Regions from separate parts of the Homo sapiens genome. Here region 1 is linked to region 2. The links come from fine-mapping of genetic effects on gene expression. A gene starts in region 2. The other region holds a variant in brackets. All regions are shown on one strand. Distances are from middle to middle.

What was found. PIP is the estimated chance that this variant, and not a neighbour inherited with it, causes the effect. A credible set is the group of variants that fine-mapping cannot tell apart.
Region 1: its variant is the best candidate, but not a certain one, in a credible set for the expression of TMEM225B in T cells (TOPMed, PIP 0.75).

Annotation. Positions count from the first base shown.
Region 1 is chr7:99,571,827-99,577,219 of GRCh38, reverse strand. It overlaps ZNF655 (zinc finger protein 655), which reads right to left. Exons shown (of 3, transcript NM_138494.3): 3 at 767-4,975. The coding sequence ends at 3,636. Among named protein-coding and RNA genes, the nearest start is that of ZNF655, 16 kb to the right of the region's middle. The variant G/A (reference allele first, on the strand shown) is at 3,394.
Region 2 is chr7:99,595,881-99,601,273 of GRCh38, reverse strand. TMEM225B (transmembrane protein 225B) reads right to left here and starts at 3,007. Exons shown (of 6, transcript NM_001195541.3): 1 at 2,893-3,007; 2 at 989-1,069.

The DNA of each region.
Region 1 (5,393 bases), 24 kb after region 2:
TGTGTAGGTAGGTGGAAAGACAGAAGATAAAAGTGCCCTCTACTATCGTATTTCTCTTCTCTCCCCTTTCAAGACCAAAATGACTCAGAACACAAACTCATGTATCAGGCCAATTAAATATCTGCTTAAAGGATTGCCCTAAAGGACTATTTTGAGTCCGCCTTTTTTAAAGTGTTTTACTTATTTAAAAAATATGGCTGGGCACAGCGGCTCACGCCTGTAATCCCAGCACTTTGGGAGGCTGAGGCAGGCAGATTACCTGAGGTCAGGAGTTTGAGACCAGCCTGGCCAACACAGTGAAACCCGGTCTCTACTAAAAATACAAAAATCAGCCAGGCAAGGTGGCAGGTGCCTGTAATCCCAGCTACTTGGGAGGCTGACACAAGACAATCGTTTGAACCCAGGAGGCGGAGGTTGCAGTGAGCCGAGATCACGCTACTGCACTCCAGCCTGGGTGACAGAACGAGACTGTCTCAAAAAACAAACAAACAAACAAAAAGTTATTCCTAGTTCTACTGAAACCTCGAACTATTTAGTCTTATTTTATATACCAACAACTTCCCAATCAAATCCCCTTTAAGTCCCAAACATTCAGCTTTTGTTCCAGAGGTCTGTGGAAAAGCAAGCTTTGTTATCAATGCAAAGGAAAGTGATCCATTCTTGCTGTGAAGCAAGTTCCAGGGAGGAAAGGAGTTGCAGCCAGAGATGTGATTCCAACATTCCCAAACGCTTCTGTCTGAGACCTTCAGATTTTGTTTGAAACAAATTCTCAGAATACCAAACACACCTTTATTCAAGTGGAAGTACAAAAGCACATTCCTAAACCAAACGCATACATGTGATTTTTACATATTCTGCTTTTTAGGGATTACATAATCCTGTTTCAGTCACCATACGTGACTACTGGTCTCTATACATAAGGGTATACATGTTTGACAGGAAAAAACACATGCATTTTTCATTTGCTTTTACATTTAGATCAATTCATTTATATATCAATTTCATTTAGATTCCTACCTTGCCTTGATGAAATCCTACTCTTGCTGATGGCAAAGAAGTAAAATATAGTGGCAGAACTATCCTAGAGGTTAGCCATAGGAGGATTATAGAGTGAGCAACATATTTTTATATATTTGTTGAGGGTCCCTACTGAATATTATAACACTGAACTATGAAAGCCTCAATTGCTGGACTGACAACAAGAATTTTAAATAACATTTGTCTTACTCACAAAATGTTATAAAGCTTAAGATGGAAAAATACAAAATGTTTTGACATTACCTAAAGAATCATGAACTCTTGTTAGGTATATGATGGTGGCCCTGAACTTGAGCCAACATCTGTAATCACTTTTATCAGTCAAAAAGCCATGTTCTTTTATATAGCCTGTAGACTATTAAAATACAAAAATGTGGTAATGGATAAACAACTATACACAAAGCCCTCACACTTCAAATACTGTCCTGGATTGATGAGAGAGGAGCAGAATTCAAACATTTATCTGCAATCCTAATGGTTAAAATTTTACCAGGAACAGACCTGCCACTCTCTTGAAATACTGTCTCTGAGATTAACATACGAACAGCATCATCTCTGTTGGAAGGCTACATTCCCTTATGATGCTGATTTGTGTGTGTGTGTGTGTGTGTATGGTTTTTTGTTTTTGTTTTTTTGTGTTTTTTTGAGAGAGAGTCCTGCTCTGTCGCCCAGGCTGGAGTGCAGTGGTGCAATCTCGGCTCACTGCAACCTCCGCCTCCCAGGTTCAAGCAGTTCTCCTGCCTCAGCCTCCTGAGTAGCTGGGATTACAGGCGCGTGCCACCACACCCGGCTAACTTTTGTATTTTTAGTAGAGACGGGGTTTCACCATGTTGGCCAGGATGGTCTCGACTGCCTGACCTCGTGATCCATCCGCCTCAGCCTCCCAAAGTGCTGGGATTACAGGTGTGAGCCACCATGCCCGGCCTGTGTATCTTCTTTATGTTTACCCTACCAAGAGCAGACCTGAGCATTTTGCTGGCCGTAGAGGTATATAAAAGAACTCTAAGCTTAGGCATGCAGAATAGGCACTGGATGAATGTAGTGAGGCTATTAGGAGTCTTGTTGGCTCCCTGATGTCCTTATCATGTCTTCTTCGCAGACTGTGGATGCACACAAGACAGCTAAAACCTTGGGCATCATTTGAAAATGTTTGGCTGCCTGCTACAATCTCAGGAGAGAGAATCCTTCATACTTATATTGGACTGGATATATTGTCAATCAAATTCTTTTTTAAAAAAAGATGCTTCACTTTAGGAAATAAGACACCAGACCAGCAACATCAAGTAGGTATGGAATACTTGCTGGTGAAACACTTAAAACTAGGAAACTTCTAAATCTTCTAAAGGTGCTTAAGAGAATGGAGAAGTTAATCAACAGGAATCCAAGTGTTGTGGCTGTAAAGCAATACGACATAAGATCCCTAGTAAAGAGCAGGCCTAAGAGTTGGTTTTGGAAAGAACTTGGGCCAAGAACAGCAGAAAAAGCTAAATGAGCTACTTACGTCGATGTGTTTTAATACTGGTGCATTAGCAGTATCTTATGGAAGTTGTGAACACTAAGAACCAATTTCAAAAAATATAAAAATGTTTATAGGGCATATTAAAATAAAAACAGCTTAAATGAGTTCTATAAATAAAATAGGCCCAGCACAGTGACACACGCCTGTAACCCCAGCACTTTGGGAGGACAGGTGGGAGGATCGCTTGAGGCCAGGAGTTCAAGACCAGCCTGGGCAACAAAGCAAGACCCCATCTCTGTTCTTTTTAATATCAAAATTATAATAAAAAAGTAAAAATAAACGTACCTACTTAGAATACATATTAAATAAAGGAACTCCATGAGAAAATGTCACTGCATTTACCAAGTCAACCCTAGATTTTTGTGCAATGAAAAAGATTGGGACTATGTATTAACAATTTCATAAACAAATAATCAACAATTTTCTCTCCATTATTTCGATGTTGGGTAAAGCCTGAAATGTGGTGTCGAGTTTTTCCATTTGCGTTACATCAAATTCTTGTCTACTATGGATATTCTGATATGACAAAGACTAGTTAAACTCCTATTGAAAGATCTGCCATTTACTACACCCAAATAAGTTCTCTTAGGTATAAATTCTTTGATGTTGAATGAGCGTTGGGTTATGACTGAATCTCCTCACACACATACATGCTTATTACATTTATAATCTTTTTGCATGGCGTGAATTTGATACTAAACAAGGTAGTTTCTTTGACTGATGGCTTTTTCACATTCATTGCAGCAATGGAATTTTATTCCCATGTGAATTCTCCAAATGTGACTAAGGTATGAAAATACTAATAGCATGAAAAATTTGCCACATTCAATACATTT[G/A]TAAGATTTCTCACTGGTATAGATTTGCAGGAGTCGATTAAGAGTTTAACACTAATACCTTTTCTTCATTCGTCACATTCAGAGGGTTTCTCTCTGGTGTGAATTATCTGATGCTGAGCAATGGCTGAGCTATGACTGAAGGCTTTACCACATGCAGTACATACATGATTTCTCCCTGGTGTGAACTCTCAGATGCTGAATGAAGCCTGAATTTGATAAATATCTTCCCATCTTCATTACATTCATGAGTTCTCTTTGGTATGAATGCTCTGATGTTGAACTAGATGTGCTCTCTGACTGGAGTTCTTTTCCCATACATCACAATCAAAGGCTTTCTGTCTGGTGAGGACTTCTTGTTGCAGGATAAGATCTGAGCTATGACTGAAACTGCCCTCATACTCATTACATTCATACGATTTCTCTTTCCTATGCATTTTGTGATGCTGAATAAGGCATGAGGTTTGACTGAAAGCTTTTCCACATTCATTACATTCATGTGCTTTCTCTCCTGTGTGAATTCTTTGATGCTGAATAAGATGTGAATTCAATCTGAAGTCTTTTCCACATTCACTACACGTATAGGGCTTTTCTCTGAAATGAATTCCTTGTTGTTTAATATAGGCCAACCCATATTCATCATACTCATAGGCTTTCTCTTCATGATGGACCCTCTGATGTTCAAGTAGGTATGAAGTATGGCAGAAGTCACTGCCACATACAGTACACTTACAGGGCATCTCTTTGTGAATTTTCTGATGTTGAGTAAGGTGGACACTACGACTGAAGACTCTTTCACAACTGCTACATTTGTAAGATTTGGCTCTGGTGTGAATTTTCTTATGCTGAATTATGCCTGAGCTTGGACTACAGGATTTATCAGACGCTTCACAGGATTTATCAGATGCTTCACATTTGTAAGGTTTTTCTCTAGTGTGTATTCTTTTATGTCGACTAAGACTTGAGCTCTGACTGAAAGACTTTTCACATTCTTTACATTTGTAGGGCTTCTCTCTAGTATGGATTCTCTGATGTCTAGTAAGGGCTGAGCTCTGATGGAAAATTTTCCCACATACATCACATTTATAGGATTTCTCAGTGTTAGGGATGCTCTCCCATTTATTAAGGTGGGAGAGATCCATTAAGCTTTCCTTACATTCACTACTCTGAAAATCCTCTGTTAGATTTAAGTGTTCATGTTTACCAGAGGCTGAATTCTGGTTGAAGCTCATGTCATACTTATCATTGTCATCGGTATTCTGTATTCTAAGAACTCTCTGATCTGCATCAATAGTAGAGTCCAGACTGAAGCTTTTTTCGGGTTCATGACATTCATTGTTCTTCTCACTGGTGAAGGTTTCCTTGCTGATTGTTATTTGCCTAAACTCTCTCTCCAGGTACAGAAATTTCCTTAGAATTTCCTGAAGTCTTTCTAATCTGTCCTCAGACTTATACACTTCTCTAGTCTCAGGAACTTGGGTAATATCGTGTTTGAGTCTTCCTACTCTCACTTTGTATGAATGCACTTCTTCCGAAATTTTCTGCTTAGGAATCAACAGCTTGTTCTCTTCTCTGGTCTCTCCATCTGATACAATATATAAATAGAAAATGCAAATGTAATCTGTACCCTGTGCTTAGGAAAAGAAAACTCAGATGAGAAAACTAAACAATGTAGTATCTACAAGGACAAGAAAAGTTTATTTACTCTGAAAAACAGGCACAAAATCTCAACAGCAGAAGTTAAGGGCATAAACAGGAGCAGTGAGGTAAAACAGCGGACATGTTCAGCAGAGTAAGGAAATAATAGGGAAACAGCTGAAAGAATTTTAGATAAGCAACTTGATTGGGGTCTAGTACGACATGTGCACGGATACTAAACAAATGGAAAGGGTCAACCTAACTGAAGGGAAAAGGAAGGAACTCTCCATGCTAGGACACACACAGAGCTCTTCATTCTGAGTGCCAAAGCAGCTACAACTTGGCTCAACAATTGAACTTTACTT
Region 2 (5,393 bases):
CCACTCTCCAGGTCATACAAGTCACCCCAACCTCAGGGCTTCCACTTCCTTCTATCTAAAATGATGAAGTCTGTTGGACCAGAGGGCATTGAGGCATCCTTCTAGTATTAGAACTCAATGGGAAGGAGTCATGGCTGCATCTTGATCCTGTCCTCTGTATAGATGGGAGTACACTGGGCATTCTCATTTGATAGGGGGCACCTCTTCCTGTCTACCCCATCTCCACCTGTATGTGACTAGAAGTGATCTCTGTCTCCTTTATTTTCTACCTTTTTTTCTCTCCTTCACCCAAACCCTAGCCTTGAGCTCATGCTGGTTCTTCCCTCTCCCCAACCCCACTTCCATCTCATCAGCCTTCCTCATCTTCTCAGTTTTCCCTTCATAAAGTTCCCCAACCTTCCAACCTTCCTGTCCCCACGCCTGCCACGTCTCCCTCCACACCTGGAACATCACCGTCATCCCCAGGCTCCTCTGGCCTCTGTACCTGGTGATTTGGTTTGGCTGTGTCCCCACCCAAATCTCACCTTGCATTGTAATAATCCCCATGTGTCAAGAGCAGGGCCAGGTGGAGATAATTGAATCACGGGGGCAGTTTCCCCCATACGGTTCTCGTGGTAGTGAATAAGTCTCACAAGATCTGATGGTTTTATAAGTGGAAGTTCCCCTGCTCAAGCTCTCTCCTGCCAGCCACCATGAAAGATGTGACTCTGCTCTTCATTCGCCTTCAGCCATGATTGTGAGGCCTCTGCAGCCATGTGGTGCGAGTCAATTAAACCTATTTCCTTTATAAGTTACCCAGTCTTGGGTATGTCTTTATTAGCAGCATGAGAACAGACTAATACACCTGGGTTCCTTCCTGGGGGCGGGGGTGCCTGTTCTGCTCCCCAGATTTTCCAAACCCCACTCCCCTGAAAAGTGCAGCTTGGTGCTGTCCACTCCACGCAGCCCTCCCAGCCACTCCCTCAGCAAAAATTCACTGTGCACTTACAGGTCGCCCCACTCCCAATGTAGGCCAATGGTGGGGATTCAGAGATGAAAAAAGGCAGGAACTCAGAGGCTCTTGGAACTGCTAGGGAGAGAGACACAGAAACACATCATGTGATGCAGTGCTTTTGTCTTCACAGCCCGGGGTTACTTTGGGGCCAGGTATACCCCAGGGCACTACCCCTTATCTGTCCCATTCCCACTGCCCCCTCCACTCTCCAGTGATGAGGACCTTGTCCTCCTTTCCCTGGGCACCAGTCCAGGTCCCTCCCTGAAGCAGCCCTTAGTGCCAGCACTGGACAAGGTTACATCTTCGGATACACAACTTCAGATCCGCACGGATATAGGCCAGACTGAAAGGTCATAGATATTTGAATATAAGAGGGGATTGGTAGATCCTTTTGTACAGAAGCAGAGATGGAGAGCTGGAGAGAGGGAATGACTGGTGGAGGATTCCACAGCCCATCAGTGCTGGCACAGGGACCAGAATACTGCATCACTGCCAGGACAGTCTCACCAGCCACCAATGGCCGGCAGTTCAATTCAGTGATTCCCAAATCTGGAATTCTGTGGATCCAGAGAATGCTTTCTTATAGGCATGTGCATGTGTGAGAAAGAGAGAGAGAATGGGGGAATATACGACTGCCAACTTTTTATTTTGCCAAGAGCATTAAAAACAAAGCAACTTATCTACTGTCACTGGTTTGGTTTTTATTCAAATTTTTGTTGTTGTTCTTTTTTGAGACAGGGTCTTGTGTCACCCAGGCTGGAGTGCAGTGGTGCATTCATGCCTCCTGGGCACAAGCGATCCTCCTGCCTCAGCCTCCCGAGTAGCTGGGACTACAGGTGTATGCCATTACACCTGGCTAATTTTTTTTTTGAGATGGGGTCTTGCTATGTTGCCCAGGCAACCCCTGGGCTCAAGTGATCCTCCCACCTTTACCTCCCAAAGTGCTGAAATTACAGGCATGAGGCCCCACGTCTGGCCAAATTATTATTTTTTAAAGGACCCATGGGCCGGGTGCGGTGGCTCACGCCTGTAATCCCAGCACTTTGGGAGGCCGAGGCAGGTGGATCACGAGATCAGGAGATCGAGACCATCCTAGCTAACACGGTGAAACCCCGTCTCTACTAAAAATACAAAAAAAAAAAAAAAAAAAAAAATTAGCCAGGCGTGGTGGGGGCGCCTGTAGTCCCAGCTACTCAGGAGGCTGAGGCAGGAGAATGGCGTGAACCCGGGAGGCGGAGCTTGCAGTGAGGCGAGATCGTGCCACTGCACTCCAGCCTGGGCGACACAGCCACAGCGAGACTCCGTCTCAAAAAACAGAAAGGACCCATAACACCAGGAGGTAAGAAAAGCTGTGTACCCCGTGGTGGTGCCTGGACCAGCGTCTGAGGACCACTGGCTTGGCAGGAGGTTCCTGGACCCTAGGCCCCCTTCAGCGCCTGAGCTGCAGCCCCGCACCTCCCAGGCCCTGGCACTTAACAGGAAAGTCGGCAGCTGCTCTGGGGATGAAGGAAGTGGGCGACCTGAAGGGCATCCTGGTTTGGAATGGGAAAGAGACCTTCCCTTCCCACTGTTTCCTCCGGTCATTTGTGGCAACTTGGACTGCACATTGACCCAGGGTAGGGTCAGAGGTTCCTTCCCGTTGACAACCGTCCTCGGCCCTTTCCCCTGAATGCCAGGACTCCGCCCTTCTGTGGCCCCAAAGCCATAGGGATATTTTCAAGACCCCAAGCTGGGCCCTAACCAGGCCATCCGCCCCCAGCCCCTGCCCCGGGCGTCCCACAGCCAGTTAGGCGATGTTCGGCCTTGGGTGGGTAGGGGGACTTCCCCACATCCTCTCCCAACCTGTGGGGCCACCTTGCTCTCCCCCATACTGGTCTCCCCTCTACCCTTCCCTCCACCTGCGGCACCGTCGTAGGCGGTTTCGCGTCCCAGAGCTGGGCTGCCCTCCAGGCGGGTCACGGTGGGACCCTCGCCCTCCACTCCAGGCTCCACCGCGCTCCTGGAGCTTCCGTTGGCCCCAGAGGCCCCGGCGGGGGGTTGCCCCGACCCGGGGGAGGAGCCCACTGAGCCTGGGCCTCTGAGCGGAGCTCCAGCTCCAGCTCTGCGGAGGAGACGCGGGCTCACCTCCCTACCTGCCGCCCCGGCCACCGCAAACCTGGCGGGTGGAGGGTGGGGAAACCAGGCCCTGGCGTCTGCCCACAGTACCGGCTTCGCTCACGGGTGTGTGGGGGCGGAGGAACAGAGAGCGGGAGGGATCTGAATTCAAATCCTAGCTCTGCCATTACCAGCGTGGGGACTTTGAATAAATTTCCTGTGTCTCCTTCCTGGGTCCTGGGCTTCTAATCTGTAAAATGGGAATAATAATAGTATTAATAATATGGTGTTAATAGTATTAACACTATTATATTAATGATATACTATTAACACTATTATATTAGTAATATAGTGTTGAGTGTTAACACTTATATTAATAATATAGCGTTAATAGCATTAACACTATTGTATTAATAATATAGGGTTACTATTAACACTGCTATATTAATAATACATGATTAACACTATTAATCATATAATAGTGTTAACACTATAATATTAACAATATAATATAGTGTTAACACTATTATAGTGTTAACACATATTATATTAATAACACTATTATATTAATAATAATTGTTAATAATATAGTGTTAACAGTATTATAATTATATTAATAATTAATAACACTCGTATATTAATATTATAATTAATAATAATAAAGTGTTAATAGTATTAACACTATTATATTAATGATAATAGTGTTAACACTATTAATAATGTAATAGTATCTACACTATAATAATAATATAGTGTTTCATAATATAGTGTTAGGCCGGGCGCGGTGGCTCACGCCTGTAATCCCAGTCCTTTGGGAGGCCAAGGCAGGCGGATCACGAGGTCAGAAGATCGAGACCATCCTGTCTAACACGGTGAAACCCCGTCTCTACTAAAAAATACAAAAAATTAGCCGGGCGTGGTGGGGGCGCCTGTAGTCCCAGTTACTCGGGAGACTGAGGCAGGAGAATGGTGTGAACCTGGGAGGCGGAGCTTGCAGTGAGCAGAGATGGCACCACTGCACTCCAGCCTGGGCGACAGAGCAAGACTCTGTCTCAAATAATAATAATAATATAGTGTTAACACTATTATATTAATAATATAGTGCTAACACCATTATATTAATAATATAGTGTTAATAGTATTAACATTATTATATTAATAATATAGTGTTAACACATATTAGTAATGTAGTGTTAACACTATCATATTAAAAATATAGTGTTAGTAGTATTAACTCTCATATTAATAACAGTGTTAACACTATTATATTACTAATATAGTGTCAATAGTATTAACATTATTATATTAATAGTAGCACACTGTGATATTACTAATATCTGTAATGTTAATGATATTCAGTGTTAGCACACTGTGGTATTACTAACATCTATGATATTCATAGTATTCAGTGTTAGCACACTGTGATATTACTAATATTTGTGACATTAATAATATCCAGCGTTAGCACACTGTTAACACACTGTGATATTACTAATATCTATATTATCTATCATATTAGTGATATCCAGTGTTAGCACACTGTATTAACACACTGTGATATTACTAATATCTGTGATATTAATAATATCCAGTGTTAGCACACTGTGCTATTACCAATATTTGTGACATTAATAATTTCCAATGTTGGCACACTGCAATGTTAATAATATCTATGATACTAAAAATATCCAGTGTTAGCACCCTGTGTTGTGTTAATAATGTCTATGATATTAATAATATCAAGTGTTAGCACCCTGTGATGTGTTAATAATAATATGATATTAATAAAATCTAGTATTAGCACCCTGTGACTTGCTAATAATAATATCCAGTGTTTGCACCCTGTGTTGTGTTAATATCAATGATATTAATAATATCCAGTGTTAGCACACCGTGATAATAATATCCAGTGTTAACACAGTGTTAGCACATTGTGATATTAATAATTTATATGATATTCATAATATCCAGTGTTAGCACACTGTGTTAGCAAAATGTGATATTAATATCTATGATCTTCATAGTGTCCAGTGTTAGCACACTGTGATATTAATATTATCTATGATATTCATAATATCCAGTGTTTGTTAGCACACTGTGTTATCATACCATATTATTCATAATATCCATGATATTAATGCTGATATCCAGTGTTAACACACTATGTTAACACACTGTGATACTATTCATAGTATCTGTGATATTATTACTAACACACATTAGATATTAATACTAATATCCAGTGTTAACACACTGTTATATTACTCAGAATATTCATGATATTACTACTAATGTCCAGTGTTAA